Regions from separate parts of the Homo sapiens genome. Here region 2 is linked to region 1. The links come from fine-mapping of genetic effects on gene expression. A gene starts in region 1. The other region holds a variant in brackets. All regions are shown on one strand. Distances are from middle to middle. Region 1 holds the start of FAM201A (family with sequence similarity 201 member A). Region 2 holds the start of FAM95C (family with sequence similarity 95 member C).

What was found. PIP is the estimated chance that this variant, and not a neighbour inherited with it, causes the effect. A credible set is the group of variants that fine-mapping cannot tell apart.
Region 2: its variant is the best candidate, but not a certain one, in a credible set for the expression of FAM201A in whole blood (INTERVAL, PIP 0.73).

Annotation. Positions count from the first base shown.
Region 1 is chr9:38,619,006-38,623,392 of GRCh38, reverse strand. It overlaps FAM201A (family with sequence similarity 201 member A), which reads right to left and starts at 2,305. Exons shown (of 2, transcript NR_027294.1): 1 at 2,028-2,305; 2 at 109-1,561. ANKRD18A (ankyrin repeat domain 18A) reads left to right here and starts at 2,797. Exons shown (of 16, transcript NM_147195.4): 1 at 2,797-3,313. The coding sequence starts at 3,108. RefSeq lists enhancers at 1,170-1,379, 2,032-2,151.
Region 2 is chr9:38,544,475-38,548,861 of GRCh38, reverse strand. It overlaps FAM95C (family with sequence similarity 95 member C), which reads left to right and starts at 3,490. Exons shown (of 3, transcript NR_047651.1): 1 at 3,490-3,546; 2 at 4,224-4,387. The variant G/A (reference allele first, on the strand shown) is at 2,429.

The DNA.
Region 1 (4,387 bases):
CTGCCACTGCAGTCCGGCCTGGGCGAAAGAGCGAGACTCTGTCTCAAAAAAATAAATAAATAAACAAATAAATAAATAAAATAAAAAATACCCATCACCTCAATTTTATTTTTTGTGGTTAGATATTTGAAATTTACTTTTTGTTATTTAAATATACAGTACATTATTATTGACTATAGTCATCCTGCTGTGCAATAGATTTCAAAACGCATTTCTCCGGTTTAACTGAATCTTTGCATCTGTGAACAACTTCCCATTTTTCTCCCCAGCAACACAGCCTCTGGTAAGCATCATTATACTCTCTACTTTTATGAATTCAATTTTTAGACCTAAATTTAAATCCAAAAGCTGTAAAACTTCTGTAAAATAACAAAAGGGATATTTAGGTAACTTTGGGTTTGGCAATTACTTTGTAGATACAACAGTAAAGTACATAAAAGACAAATTTCTACCATGAAAGAAGATATTGGTATGAAGTCGTTACAATTAAAAACTTTTGCTCTGGGAAAGGAAATAAGAGAATGGAGAAACAAGCCACAGACGGAGAAAATATTTGCAAAACACCTGTCTGGCATCCAGACCATTAAAAACCACTTACAACTCAACAATAAGAAATCGAACAACCCAATTAGTAAATGGACGAAAGATCTAAAGAGGCTCCCATCAGAGATGGCATATAGAAGGGGAAAAGCTTATGAAAAGATGTTTGCCCTCCCAACGCTTTTCCCTCCCTGCGTCCCTCTCCCTCACACACCCTCCGCTGCAGCGGAGTGGGAGCGGGTCAGGGGCGCTAGGCGGTGACGGTGACGGTGACGTGCTGTCTCTCGGGCGAGGCGTGGGATTTAAGCGCATTATAAGCCGTGGGTCCCGGGGAATCCGAGAGGCTGAGCTTGGAGCCCAGACTGACCCGCCTCTCTCATGGTCCCGGCCCACTGCCCTGCAGAGCCCGCCTTACTCTTCCTCTCCACAGGTCTGCTGTGGCTCCACCAAGCCTGGTAGGCCCACAAGGAGCTGCATCCAGCAGGAGCCGCCGCCCGGGAACAAGCTACCCGCGGGCTCTGGGGACAACCGCCCGTCTGATGAGCTCGGCTGAGCGTGCACGCAATGTCGAAATCAAGGACGCCTGGATGCTTTTCATGGCAGAGTGACAAAAGTTTACCAACAAGAAGAGGAGCAGGGCTGCTGAAAGGTGCGGTGCCGCGGCGCCAGAATGCGGGATCCTGAGCCCTGCATGCGAGTCTTCGCGGGGCCGATCGCTGCGAGCCTCGCTTAGGTCCAGCCGCCTCCAGGGAGGGCAATATCCACGAGACGCGGGGAGTGAGGGCGGTGCTGGCCGCACCCCTGGTCCTGGGGCCGCGGGAGCCGTGCTAGCAGGCCGCCTTCCACTGCCGCCTGCGCCGGGTCGGGTTGCTGCAGCGGTGCCCGCTGCAGGAGCTCCGCGCCTGCTGCTTCTCCGACGTCAGGGCGCCGCCAGGATGACAGGTGCAGGAGGCTGCGGCTGTGGGCAGATGTGGTTTCCAGCCCCAGGTCCCGGCGGCCCCTGGCTTCCCAGCCCGCTGTCCTGTGGGCAAGAAGATGAAGAAAGTCACCCCATCAGCAGGTCAGCTGCCCCGCCTGGCAGCCCAGCCAGACAAGGCAACCGAAGTTCATCCTGTCTGAGTTGACTTTGTGCAGGCAGCGGGCCGGCGCCCAGGATGCTGGGGAGCCCTGCGCGCCGGAGGCCGACAAGCCGTGGGGCCCAGAGGCGCCACAGGGCGAGAAGGCACCCGCCTCCCAGCGCTTTCACCCCCCGGCCCGCCCGACCCGCTAGGTGTAGCAGTGGCTGCGGCCAAGCCAGGCATTCTGCCCGGCGGCGGCTGCACAGGGGCGAAAACTGAGAACCCCTGCTCAACCCCATCCGGAGTGACTGCCAAGTGCCCATGCCAGCGACCCCGATCCCCCTCCGGTGGAGGAATGGGCGGGAGGCACGGCCTGGGGGCCCTCAGGCTGGGCGCGCTGGCGATCCCGAGGCCGACCAGGCCATGCACCTCCAGCCCGCCTGGGCACCCAAGCTGCATCCGCCTTCTGTGTGCAGGCAGCAGCCTCCAGGCAACCCCCGAGCCCGCCAGCACTCCCCACATCTCAGAACCGGGGCCAGATGTCCCTGTGGCTGCGGCTGAGCTAGGTGGTCTGCCCTGCAGCGGGAACCGGCTCTCAGCCCCATTCCCCGTGGCTGCAGAGGGCCACTGGCTAGAGGTCCCGAGCTTCAGCAGACGAGGAGCCGAGCAGGGGCAGGGCCTGGCGGGCTCTCAGGCCAGGTGCACTCGCGATCCAGAGGCCGCCTAGGCCGTGCTCCACCACCTGGGCGCCCAAGCTGCAGGCGCCCTCTACCTGCTGGCGACAGCTGCCTGGCAACTCCCAAGATGGCTGGCGCTCCCAGCCTGGCAGAACCGGGGCTACATGTCGCCCTGGCTGCGGCCAAGCCAGGCGGTCTACCCGGCGGCGGCTGCACCGGGACAGGAACCGACCCCCCAGTCCCATCCCCGGTGGCTGCGGAGGGCCCCTGTCAGCGGCCCCGATCTCTCTTCGGAGGAGGAGCGGGTCGGGAGTCAGGGCCAGGCAGGCCCTCAGGCGGGAAGGGATGCACTCCTGGGATTCCGGGACGTCCCGCGGGAGCCCAGGAGAACCCGCAAGCCAGCGACGCGTGCGCCCGTGCTGCAGGTGCCCCCTGCCGGCCACGAGGGCTTGGGAGCGGCTTCCGGAGTCCCGGCTGGCGCTGAGTTGTAGGCGCGCGCCTAACTGGCATCGCGGGGACTCACTCGGTCTGAGAGTTCGGAGCGCTGAGGTTCAGGCGCGCGCCTAACGGCTTAGCTGGGCTCACTCGGTCTGAGAGGTCGGAGTCTGCGAGTGTCGCTGCTGAAGGCTGTGGTGGACCGGGCTGGATCGCGGATTCTGAGCTACATTGCGGGTTTGGGGGTGGATCTTGGATTTGGGGGTGGATCGCGGGTTGCGGGGGGGATCGCGGGTTGCGGGGGAGATCGCGGATTTGGGGCGGAGTGGGGGTGGAAAGGCCACGAGGAGCCGCCGCGGCTCAGGAGCGGGTGGTGGGCGTCTGAGAAGTCGCCACCATGAGGAAGCTCTTCAGCTTCGGGAGACGCCTGGGCCAGGCGCTCCTGAGCTCCATGGACCAAGAGTATGCGGGTCCGGGTTACGACATTCGGGACTGGGAACTGCGGAAGATCCACAGGGCTGCCATCAAGGGCGACGCCGCGGAGGTGGAGCGCTGCCTGACGCGCAGGTTCCGGGACTTGGACGCCCGCGACAGAAAAGACAGGTAGCTCGGGGACTCAGCCCGCGGTGGGAGGGGGCCGCAGGCCCGGCTTCCCTGCAGCCCGGCAGCCCCTGGGGCGGGGACCTTGGAGGGCGCCGGGCACCCTCGGAGCAGCGGAGCCAAATGGAGCCTCAGCTGCTTTCCGTCGCTGGCAATTCCCCGTCCGTCGCGCTTGGTGGAAAATTTGAGTGATTTAACTCACAAAGTTAGGCATATCCACGTTTAAAACATGGGGCCATATACATGATAGGGAGGTGCCTAATGAGAACTCATTCCCCTGTCAAAAATACCATGAGCCTTTTTCAGTAGGCGAAGAGTTCTCAGATAAAACCCTGTGTCGGTTTTACATCCGAATCCACCTAGGTAGACAGGTTCTTTACTGGAGCTTCTTAGAGGGACACTGGGAAGCGCGAGGTGGGTTCCTTGAATGGGAAGACTCAGTTTTCTCAAAATATGAACTGTTTCCATGTTTATCAGTTTTACATAAACTGAATGAAGATATCAAGGTTTTATCATTTTTGCATGACACTTGCTATCTATCTTACCATTGTGATGACATTTAAAAATGTTTATAATGGAGTGAAAAGACTTGCTCCTCTAGATATCAAAATGTGCTATTAATTCCCACAATTAATTATTTACTAACAGCTGAAAACACAGATAAATAAATGGAACAGAACAGGAAATCCAAAAACACTGAAATATATGTAAGATATATACATAGGGATGGATAATGGTAACGTTTCAGATGAGTAGGAAAAGATGAGTTATTAATAAAATGCCTGCTGTGTGAAGAAAACTAATGAAACTTTATGTCGCAAAAATGGGTTCCTGATGGAATTCAGACTGAAATTTTTACACATGCAAAATGAGAAAAAGTACCAGAAGAAAACGCAAAGACTTATTTATACAGGTACATTTTATGTTAACAAAGGCCTTCGTAAGAATGACCTCGCAAGCAGGCATTCTGAAAGTTGATTTAGCAAACTAAAAATTAAAATCCCCTGTGTATCAGAAAAAAATTAACAAAAGATAACACACTCGAAAAATATTTCCTATATATATTTTTACTAATAT
Region 2 (4,387 bases), 75 kb after region 1:
GGACTCAAAAGTTTGGAAAATTTGCAGCCTGGCCAAGTGGTCAAAAAGAAAAGCTGATTTTCAGGGGGAAAATTCAGGAAGGCTTCAGAAACTTGCATGAAAAGGAGCCCAGTGCTAATAGCCAAGACAATAGGGAAAAGCCCTTGACGGCATTTCGGAGACCTTTGCAGCAGCCCTTGCTATCACAGGCCCTGGGCCCTAGGAGAGAAGCATGGTTTCCTGGGCCAGTCCTGTGACCCCGCTCTATGTGCAGCCTCAGGGCACTGCTGCCTGCGTCCCTGCAGCTCCAGCTCCAGCCATGGCTGAAAATGCACAGATGCAGCTTGGGTCACTGCTTCAGAGGGTGCAAGCTAGAAGCCTTGGTAACTTCCTCATAGTGTTAAGCCACTAGGTGGATGGATCATGAGACTAGAGGCTTGGGAGCCTTTTTGTAGACTTTGGAAGATGTATGGAAATGCCTGGGTGACCAGACAAAAGCATCCCAAAAATGCAGAGCCTCATAAGAAACTTCTACTAGGGCAGTGCAGAAGGAAAATATGGGGTTGGAGCCCCCACACTGGAGGCCACCGTCATGCAGACCCCAGATTCATAGACCCACCAACAGCTTGTACCATCAGTCAGGAAAAGCTGTAGGCACTCAACACCCGCCCAGTCCATGGGGGCAGCTGTGGGGCATAAACCCTGCAAAGCCACAGGTGCAGGGCTGCCCAAGGCCTTCAGAGCCCAGCCCTCATGTCCCTGTGCCCTGGATGTGGGACAACGTTTCAAAAAGGGTGATTTTGGAACTGTAGGATTGAATGACTGGCCTTCTGGGTTTGGAGTTTCATGGGGCCTGTAAGTCCTCTATGTGTTTTGCTCTTTCTGGCAAAATTTTTCCTTTCAGTTGAGAATGCTTACCCATTGCCTGCACAAGCATTGTAGCTTGGCAGCAGTTAACTTGCTTTATAGTTCAGAGGCTTATGTGCCTAAGGGACTGTATAGCCTTGTGTCAGATGAGACTTTAAGCTTTGGACATTTGTATAAATGCTGGAATGATACAAGATTTGGGGGGACTGTAGGGAAGGCATCATTGTATTTTGCAATGTGAGAAGGACATGAGATTTGGGAGCCAGGGACAGAATAATAAAGTTAAAGGTGGGGCCTGGTGGAGGGTGATTTAATCATGGTGGAGAGTGTGGGTTGGAAGGTGGGGGGTAGGGAGAATGAGGGGATTATGGTGGGGGTGAGGGGTGAAAAGTGGTGGTGGGAGGTGGATCCTTCACAAATGATTAAACACCATCTCCTTATTGCTGTGCTTATGCTAGTGAGTTCTCTTCGTGATTTTGGAGCTGTGAGATTGAATGGATACTGGCCTCCTGGGTTTTGGACTTGCATTGGGTGTGTGGTTCTATTTGTGGTTTTTTCCTGGGAAATTTCTTCCCTTTGAATTGAGAAAGCTTACCCAATGCCTGTACCATCATTGTACCCTGAAAGAAAAGAACATCCTTTTAAATTCAGGGACTCATAGGTGCAAGGGACTGTAGACTTGTCTCAGATGAGATGTTGAACTTTTTACATTTGAGTTAATGCTGGAATGAGTTAAGACTTTTGGAAACTTTTGACAAGGCATGAATGTATTTTGCTCTGTGAGAAGGACATGAGATTCTGGGGTACCAGGGTCAGAATAATATGGTTTGGCTGTGTTTCTTTACCAAAACTCCTGTGGAATGTACTCCTTAATGTTGGAGGTGGGGCCTGGTGGGAGGTGATGTAATCATGGCAGGAGGGGTTTGGGGTTGGAAGGAAAAGGGGTGGGTAGGGTGGGAAGTAGGTTGGCAGTAGGGTGGTGGGAGGGTGGTGGGTAGTAGGAAGGGGGAGTAGTCTGCTTCAGAGGCAGAGGCTCATGGGAAACCTCTGCTAGGGCAGTGCACCTGCAGCTTTGCAGGCTTCAGCCCCCATGTCTGCTCTCATGGGCTAGGCTGGTGTGGAGTGCCTGTAGCTTTTCCATACTGAGGATGTGAACTGTTGGTGGGCTTATGAATCTGGGGTCTGGAGGATGGTGACCTCCTGTGTCGGGGCTCCAAGCCCATGTTTCCCTTCTGCACTGCCATGGTAGAAGTTTCCCAAGAGGCTCTGCCTCTGCAGGAGGCTTCTGCCTGCAAACAGTGGGTGGTGGTGTGGGTGGTGTTTCCTTCACCAGTGGTTAATCTTCTTGATGCTGATCTCCTGATAGTGAGTTCTCATGAGATCTGGTTGTATAACAGGATGTGGCACCTCCTTTCTCTCTCTGTCTTGCTCCTACTCCTGCCATATGAAATATCTCATTGTCGCTTGTCCTTCTGGTATGGTTATGAGGGCCCTGATCAGTGTGGGCCTCATCAGTGGACCTAGTCAGCTGGGACTTGGTCAGTGAGGCCTATTTATTGGGGGGTGTGGTCAGCAGGGGTCT[G/A]CTTAGAGAGGGTCTCATTAGGGGGATCTAGTAGTGGGGTCTTGGTGAGTGGGGACCTAGTGGCAGCCACTTGTTTGGTGTCTGGTCAGTGTAAAACTAGGCTGCAGGACTTTGTCAATGGAGACCTGGTCAGCTGGGGCTTAGTGGTGGCCTTGTCAGCATGGGCCGGGTCACTGGTGACCAGCTCAAGGGGTGCTATTCATTGGAGGCCTGGTCACATGGGACCCAGTCAGCAGGGCCTGCTGGCCATGTCCTCATCAGTGAGGCCCTTGTCAGTGGGGCCCTGGTCAGCGCAGCCTGGTCAGTGGAACCTAATCAGTGGCGGCCTGTTCAGAGAGAGCGCATTCAGTGGTGGCTCTTGTAGCAGTGGTCTGTGGGGTGACCTGGTCAGCAGGGATCTGAGCAGTGGGTGCCTATTCAGTGGGGCCTACTCACTAGGGTCACAGTCAGGGGCATCTTGTCACCTATGGCCTGGTTAATAGGGGCCTGGTCAGTGGCAGCCTGTTCCCTGGAGGCCTGGTCAGTGGGGCCTCATCTATGGTGCCAGGCAATGGGGTCATGATCAGTGGAACCTGGTCAGTGAGGCCCTGGTCAGTAAGAACCTGGTCAGTGAGGCCCTGGTCAGTAAGGTCCTGGTCAGTGGGGTCCTGGACACTGTTGGCCTAGCAGCAAGGGCCTGGTTAGTGGGGCCTGGTCATGGGGTTCTAATCAGTGAGAGTGTGGTCAGGGAGGACCTGATGTGTGGGATATGGCCAGCAGGGACCTGGACCTGGTCAGCAGGGGCTGCTGAGCACTGCTGGGAGATGTCAGGTGCAATGCACGTTATTGAGGGCCCTGTGGACAGTTGGGATGGCCCAGTAGTGCCCAAAGACCCAGTCAAAACTGGACAAAGCAGGTGTTTCGATGGACCTGGGAGATCTTGCTCAGAGATTCCAACAGGACAAAGGGAAAGGAAGGGCCACAGTGGCCAGATAGATGGTCACAGTCTATGGGCTGCACAGGATGGAGGAAGCCAGGGAACAGGCAGGGTGGGCAGCAGGGTGCAGGGAGAGGCAGGTGCATGCTGGGAGGTCAGACCCTGTGAGGGCTGTGGGGGCATCAGGCGCAGTGGGCTCCAGGTGCACCCTCAATGCACTGGGCAGGTCTCAGGCCAGGCTCCCTGGACCCCGGCTGGGTGATGTGGTCACTCCCTGGGGGACTGCTGTCAGGCACCGGGCACCCACCATGGGCAGCACTGTCCCATCTCAGGACTGGACTTTCTCAGATCCTGCAGAGGGCACAGCCTCCAGCCCAGGAGGGGCAGCCCCATGGTGCAGCTGGAGCTCTCCATTGGCCTGGAGTGTCCCCTGCCAGCCCTGTACTCCCTCTTCTCCTGGGTCCCGCTTTTGCAGTGTCAGGAAGCAGAGGGGCTCCGTCCTCCCTTCCCTATGTGTCTCCTGGGCTGAAGCTTGCAGTGGACTGGGACAGGGATGGTGCTTCCCTCAGGCCCATTTAGGGAGGGGACTGGCTCCCAGCCTTGGCACAGGTCCTCAGCTCTGCCTTGGTTGCCTCAGAGTGAGCAGGATCAGTCAGTGCCCTGAAGGTAGAGCTAAGAGACTGTCCTTGCTGTGTGGGAGGCTGGTCTAGGGATGGAGGACTTAACGGGTCCTCCCAGTCTGTCAGGCCTGGACAGTACTGTCCTGTCTCAGACTGCAGAAATTCCAGTCCTGAGATAGGACGGTGCTGCCCAGGGTGGGTGGCCAGGGCCTGACAGCAGTCCCCCAGGGAGTGACCACATCACCCAGCCGGGGTCCAGGGAGCCTGGCCTGAGACCTGCCCAGTGCATTGAGGGTGCACCTGGAGCCCACTCCGCCTGATGCCCCCACAGCCCTCGCAGGGTCTGACCTCCCAGCATGCACCTGCCCCTCCCTGCACCCCAGATGTCCACCCTACCTGTTCCCTGACTTCCTCCATCCTGTC